Linked DNA regions of Homo sapiens. The protein of the gene in region 2 interacts with the protein of the main gene of each other region in a pairwise test. Each region holds a gene or a part of one and is shown on either strand. Other genes may lie near its edges.

The links. Proteins that work in one complex are often made in the same cells at the same time.
Region 1: the proteins of EIF5A2 (region 2) and RAB30 interact in a two-hybrid assay, tested with the Homo sapiens proteins (one large-scale study listed by BioGRID and IntAct).

Annotation. Positions count from the first base shown.
Region 1 is NC_000011.10:82,988,398-82,991,897, reverse strand, and holds part of RAB30 (ras-related protein Rab-30), read left to right. Parts: intron 1-3,500. UniProt on the Homo sapiens protein: The small GTPases Rab are key regulators of intracellular membrane trafficking, from the formation of transport vesicles to their fusion with membranes.
Region 2 is NC_000003.12:170,905,838-170,909,942, forward strand, and holds the start of EIF5A2 (eukaryotic translation initiation factor 5A-2), read right to left. Parts: upstream 2,801-4,105; 5' UTR 2,706-2,800; intron 2,005-2,705; 5' UTR 1,970-2,004; coding exon 1,805-1,969; intron 1,257-1,804; coding exon 1,152-1,256; intron 1-1,151. UniProt on the Homo sapiens protein: Translation factor that promotes translation elongation and termination, particularly upon ribosome stalling at specific amino acid sequence contexts.

The sequences.
Region 1 (3,500 bases), on a different chromosome or scaffold from region 2:
GTGCTTATTACACTGCAAAAATTGATATTTTTATAACATCTGACTCCACCATAAGGCCACAGGCTCCCCAAGAGCAAGGTTTGTGTCTTACTCATATTTGTATTCACAGCACACTTTCTATCCCCAGTACTTCTTCAGGCTTCTAGAACTTTATCTATAAAAAGTGACAGTTGGCTCATCTCCCAAATCCAGTCCAAATCAACTTGCCTGTGATTCTTTCAAGCCCAATATATAAAATAAAGATACAGGGTGGCCCTCTTCAACCACATGAATTTAAGGGCCTCATTAACATGTAGGCATATGAGGAACAACTTCTTTAATCCTTTCTTAGAAGAGGGCAGAACTGCATAGTTGTCTTATTGTCATCTTTTTTTTTTTTTTTTTTTTTTTTGAGAAAGGGTCTTGCTCTGTTGCCTAGGCTGGAGTGCAGTGGTGCAATCACAGCTCACTGCAGCCTCGACCTCCTAGGCTCAAGTGATCCTCTCACCTCAGCCTCCCAAGTAGCTGGGACTACAGGTGTGTGCCACCATGCCCAGCTATTCATTTTTATTTTTATTTTTTGTAGAGATGGGGTCTCACTATGTTGCCATGTTGATCACTCCTGGGCTGAAGTAATCCTTCTGCCTCAGCCTCCCACAGTGCTGGGATTACAGGCATGAGATACCACATCCAGCCTGTCATCCTTCTTCTTTAACATTTACTGAGTATCTTTTCTCAGTGATGTTAAAGTGTCTTTTTGCTAGTAGTTTGCGGGCTTTCCCAGAGCCTCATAAAGTCAGTGGATAAGAGAATCCACCAGTGATTCGTATGGCATCACCCGCTTGGTGAGTGGCAGGACCACTCTCCTGACACCCTCATCAGTGTCCTCTACAAGTATCATTTTTTCCAGGATGGCTCCCAGGATTGAAGGCAGGGAATCCAAGGTATTAGATTTTTGTAGCTATTAAGGCCAAGTAAGCGCCAAATCAGTAAAAACAAAATTAATGAAGAGGCCCTTCTCTTAAAAGGGTCTGCATTATGAAGGTGACCTCTGGTAGAAAATATAATTAAAACATATATAGACCACTGAACTGTATGCTTAAAAGTGGTTAAAATGATAAATTTTATGTATGTTTTAGCAGAATAAAAAAAATGGAAAAAACACAGAACTTTCTCATATATATTTTAGTCTATTATAAATTAATGAGTAATAAGAAAAACTCTAAGCTCAATTTAAACCATTTTAGCCTTAAGAGATAAATCATAATAGAAATAGAAGATTTGCTGTATCTCTTTCCAGTCAGATCTATGTTGATAGATAGGAGAGTCATGAAAGTATTTATATGTATTTGTTTCTTCAACCATCTGTCCATCCATTCATTCCTCCATCCTGTGTTGTAGTAAATGTTTTGTGCCAAGCACTGTGGTGGTAAAGCATCCCTGCCCCTTAGGAACTTACTATCATCTAGCTCCATCTGTGAAATCTTCTTTAATACCCTACTAATCTGTTAAGTAGAATTGACCAGTTCCTCCCTTGTGATTCCACAATCCTTTGTTCATTTAGTTAGCCATCATTCAAATGTTTCTACCACGTGCTGTGTGCTGTGTTAGGAAGGTACTGGGGGTGTAAGGTCAAATAAAAGACAGCCTTTGCTCTCAAAGAACTCAGTAGTAGAGTAGTAAACCAATGATTGCAGTACATTATTATGACGGTGAGGCAATGGAGTTTAAGTAGTGGTGCAGAGAAGAGAGTAGACAAACAATGTAGCCACATGCTGAAGGTGAGAGTGGTTAGAAAGCCCGTGGCTACAGTATTGAAAACATATTGACAGGCATGAGACTAACAGCAGGAGACGCTCTCTTCCTTTTTAATAGAACATCTTGTATTCTGCTATAGTTAATTAACTGTGTGTGTCCTTTCTATAGACTGTGAGCTGTTTGAAATCAGCGTTGATTTTATTCATCTTTATATCCTCCCTGTGTTTTATTCATCTTTATATACTCCATGTGCCTAGCACAGTACCTTGCATATATTAATGTCCTATAGATGCCGAAAGGCGCAAATGAATTGCAGAGAATGGTGAAACCAAGTTGAGTGACAAAGGCAGTAGAATATGAATATCCTCAATAATCAACTGTCAGCTAGAAACAGGCAGCCCCCTATGAGAAGGTAACATATCTTGGCATGCTCATACAATCGCTGTTCTAGAAAATATTTCAGTGACTTTAACCCTCGAAGCTGTTCTCAAGATGTGGGAACACACTGATTTCTAATACTGAACAGTTCCTAAATCGCAATCACAAGTGTTTTAGGGGCTCAGTGCAGCTTTAAAACAATAGCCCATTATTCTAAGACACATCCTGGCAGAGGGGAACCGTGTCCCTAGGTTTGAGGCAGAGAAGAGAAATAGCCTTTGTCCCAGCAAAAACCGTAACATCTGTACAGTGGCCTTTAGCATACACAGGCTTTCATGTGTATCATCGAAGAGCAGCTGCAACTGCAGATCAAAGGAGAGCCTTTGTGTGCTGCTGATTCATGGCAGGGACTACGGGTCACTCAGCAGTCTCTTTAGCTAAGCTAGTATGAGCAGAGGGTGACAGCAATGGATTCATCCTCTTTGGATACAGATGCACATTTTAGTTAGTCTTTGGTGGCAACAGCAGCATGGGAGCATGGAATGAGTCCTCAACTGGAAATAGAAGGCCTGGATGCCATGTCCTAGCTTTGTGAATAACCAGTTAGTTAAGGGACAGTTTCCATTAATACGGGGAGGTGTACACTTGCCTACCTCACTGGATTGTTGTAAAGATTAAATGAGACCATCAGTAAATATTTGAGCACCTCCTATTTGCCAAGTGCTCTATTTGCTCTAAATGGACCCTGACGTCTCCCTCATGAAGCTTTCAGTTTAGTGGGAAAGATGGCTATTAAACAAATTATTACAAATAAATGATTCAGGCATGTCAGGTGCCATGAGGGAGAATGACAGGATGTATCGCAAGAGAGACTGTGTGGGGTGGGGGGGTGGGGAACCTAGCCTAATCTGAAGGTTCTGGAAAGCCTTCCTGAGGAAGCAATCTTATGTCCCTGGACATGAATACACCTGTGACCTGTGAAATTCGTGCAATTAGAAGGAAAGATTATTGTTTTTGTTGATGTTCTTATTTCTCAAGGCCTTGTGTTTTGTTCTACACTTAGCAGCCACCCTGGAGAATAATTCGTTTTCAGTAGTTGTCTACTCTGTGCAGGGAAATTGACAAGTATTGTCTTCTTCTTTGTTATTAGAATTATTAGTTATTAGGACTTAGAACTGGTAGATAACTGCAGAAAAAGTGAACCTTCAGCAGGTTGTGTGTTATTAACCACTTTTTATAAAGAAATAATCAAAGCCCAAAGAGATTAAGTGACTTGGCCAAGGTCATAGAACTTAAGAGACCTGAAGGAAAATTATATTGTTGTCTGCCATGGCATGATTCCTGTTTTCTTTAACAAAGATAATACCTTAATACATCCATTTGAA
Region 2 (4,105 bases):
AAATCATCCAACTAGAAAGTGACAGAACTAGATCCAAACCCAGATCTACCTGGTTAAAAAAACCCACTTGCAAGACAATTCAAATTTCTACAAAGACTTCAAAGCAACCTAGAAAACATTTATGACAAGTAGGAAAGTGAAAATATAAAAGTGTTTACTAGATTAAAACCACAAAAAAGTATGTTTGCATGTGGACAAACAGCAAAAGGAAATCATTGCGTAAGTGCAGTTGATAGCAACATTAAAAGAAATTTATACAATACAACAAAGGGTACAGAAAAAAATCAGTTTAAGTCGGATAAAACAAATACCAGTGTCAACTTTGTATTTTTCACTATGTAAAATGAGCAGAAATGAGTTTGATATATGGTATGCTTGATACAGAAATTGAAGACTTTCAAGAAAAGCTTTAGTTATAAGTAATCTGAGCTTCCACATCCTATAAGGTCAATTATTTTGTTATCATCAATACTTCAAACAACAAAATGCTATCATTAAATATGACCTACCCAAATGTATAACTGGAACTAAAACTTGAAATTTACATACATAATTTAGCAAAAGGTCATAGCATGGTCACTAAGTATAATTTAACCAATTATATAGTTTTTGTGTTTTCTTCACCATACTCAGTGACCAGGTACTTTATCCTTTATATTTATGGCTTTCAACTTATTTCTCTACTTAAGAATGTCAAGTTCTGACTAACATTCATTAATGCAAAAACTTGGTAGGAACATGAATTTCAGTAGTTTCTTGAATGTCTCAGGTCTGATCAGTGAAAAGAAACAAAACATCCAGGAGGGATGTTTTAAATTAGAACAAGAAATATTTTACAACAGAGAGAATAGTACTTTTACTAAACATTGGACTTAATTGCAATATGCAGTCACTTGGCCTGAGAACACTAATAAGTATTTGACTTTTTAAAAAATGCAAGAATGTGAAAAAAATAGCAAACTAGCAATAATCCTAGAAAAGTACATGTGTTAAACATCACTATTTCTCCAATTTCTAAGATAGCTGGTGCCTAATAATTGGTTAGAAAAACCTACAAAACTACTCTTGGGTTTTGTCAAATTATTACTGATAGTACAAAGTATTTGCACCTTGAAGAAACAAGCAACATTCTAAAGAAAATCAGTGCTTACTTGATAATCATTTCTCTTAATATTTGGAACATCCATGTTGTGAGTAGAAGGACAAATATCTTCATATTTTTTGCCCGTGAAAATATCAATTCCAACAAGGTGAACCTAACAGAGGAGAACAGGAAACCTGTTTAATCTCTGCCAAGTATATCACTCATTACACACACAAGAGCACAATACCAATGCTGATTACAACAGATTCTTTTTCTCCTCCTTCCAAGGTCATCTAATTTTACTTAAAAAAAAATGTAGTGGTCTTACAATTAAGAGGCAGTAAACAACTAAACAGTATCACGACATGTCAAGACCCAATATAGACCAGTGATTCAATTATGAGATTACACAAGAAAAATAAAGTGTAGATTTCTTAGAATTGCTAGAACAGGTTTTCTCATCTGTAAACTAAATAGATCTTATAGGTCACTAGGATTCAGGAAAGTTTCAGTTCCCAGTTAATGAACATTGTAAGGGCCCAAGAAGGGAATGCTACCTTTAAGTATTCAACGTAATAACTGATTACCCAGTAATTGTGGGAAGGAAAAAATAGTGCTTATTACAAAATTTTAAGTATAGAAATCTCATGATCTGTAACGGAATACAAATGATCAAAGTCCCAACGCCGAAGCCAAAGCCTGATCTGCAAGGGTACTTACCTTGGCATGACCATGCTTTCCAGTTTTGGAAGTTGACATCTCCACTATTTTGCATGGTCGTCCTTTGAGCACCACGAAGCCGTTTTTGCGCAAGGCCGAGCACTGCATAGGGTAAGTGCTGGAAGCCCCGGCATCTCCAGTAGTGAAATCAATTTCGTCTGCCATGGTGGGCAGGGGAGATGGTAGTTTTTCCGTGGGAACTACACAAAAAGTTTGTGTTTGCTTTTTAACAACGGGTATGTAGGCAGGGAAACGTCTCATTTCGGACAAGTTATGTGCCAAGCATCATGGGCCCGTTATTTCTGCATGTAAGGAACACCCACCCTAGACTAGTGGCCACTTTCTAACTCTGGCCTCTACAAACTTTTCCAGCTACTGCTTGGGGAGGTGGGATGAGAAGTCGCAGAGGAGCTCGCTGAGGGTGGGGACACCCGCCCTGGGCGCTCCTCCGTGCTGGAAACAGCAGGTTGCGGCCCCCATCGCCCCACCGCAGAAGCCGGCGACCTTCCCCCGCCGCCCAGCCCTCGGCCGCCGCCCCGAACCCTACTGCGGGGGACCCAGCCCAGGCCGCAGGTCCCCGCGAAGGATGCGGGGTAACAGAACCTGGCCAGCAGCACCCGGCCCTCTGCTAGCTGGCGCGCACCCCGCCCTCCACCCTTCAACGTCGCCGCCGCGGCCGCACAGGCGCCCCCTGTTCTGCCGGCATCCAGGGCTCAGCTCGGCCCGGCCCGGCCCCACTAGGGCCTGAGCCCCGGCGGGTCCCGCGCTCGCCTCTGTTCCCCCATCCATTCTCCTTCTTTCTCTCGGTCAGCGCTCAGTTCTGGGCGCCTTCCCCGGCCCTGCCTCACTCTGGCCCCATCCCCACCAGCTTTTCCCCACCAGCTTTTCCCCAGGTCTTCACCTTTCAGCTGGCAAAGAGCGCCTTTCGTCTGCGCACCCGCGCTGGTCCCCTACAGCAGCGGCGCCGGCAGCGGCGGTGGCGGCCGCGGCAGTTCCAAGAGACGGGGCGGGGCCGCCACACTTTCCACACCCCAGCCTCCCCGCCCTTACCCGCCCCCACTCAGCCCTATTTCCGGGATAGGCCCCGGAGCGTCACAGGCACCGCCCTCTCGGGCTACCATTGGCTACCAGATTCCCGAGGCTCCGCCCAGTCACGTGAAGAGCGCCCTGGCAACCCCACGTGCTGCGGATTAGTGCACTTCCGGCGTGGAGCGCACTTTCAGCAGTCTGGTTGCCGAGGGTGAGCTCGCTGGCAGAGGAACTTGCGCCTTCCAACTCTTAGGTTTGTTGCGTTCGGGTCGCAGTCGACTTTAATGGGAACCAAGCAAAGCACCCAATGGCCCCTGCCATCAGGTGCGTGGCAGTTATCACATGACGATCGTCAGAACTCGCGAGGCGCGCAGATTCAGCGAGTGCCAGTGTGGCTGGCTGTGAAGCGAACTTTGGGTTCGAGCTTCTGGTTCAGCTTGCAGCCTTTCTTGGGGTTCGAACCTCCTCCTGGTCCTTAAAGAAGAATTCAGGTGCAGTATTTTATTACCCAGCTCGGCACCGCAGGTCCTGAGGACCCCCCATTCACCCCTTGGTGAGATTTTTGGCAGCGACTGCCGCCGGATGCCCCTGTAGAGTCAGCACTGCTCCCTGGGGTGGGAACTCCCGAAGCGTCCGCCAGCTAACAAGCCAGCAGTGAAATGAATTAACCCACTTCTCACACCAAAGGCTGTTGGGAAGTTGTGGAGGCGAAGGGTGTCTGACTCCTACGGCATTGTGGGTCCAGAGAGGTGTTCTGCCGACTCATCCATTCTTTCCTCCTGGCATTGGCATTCCTTAGAGTTTGGGGTTTAACCCTGGCACATTAGAACGCTTGGATGGTCTTCAAAATTGACCTAGAGCTTGTAGACTGCCATAGAAAGGTTCTTAAAAGAGATGTGCTCCCCCTTCACAGTTTCATTTCGCAACCTACCGCAGTATCCTATCTTGGGGAGGTGATCTAGGAAATTATTTCCCATCCCACACCCGCATTTATGTGGTAACTTTGATTTCCTATTGCTGTCTCATGAATAATCCCATATCTCACATTCCTGTATGACTCTACAGTTTACACATATCTTTCAAACAGGTCCAATTTAACTTTCGCAATAAGTTACTGCCCTCTCATGTACTGAATTCAGCCTCTAGCTAATATACAAAGGAGCCATTACAGCAGTGGCTCATGCCTGTAATCCCAGCACGTTGGGAGGCTGAGGCAGGTGGGTTCCCTGAGCTCAGGAGTTCGAGATCAGCCTGGGCAGCATCGTGAAACCC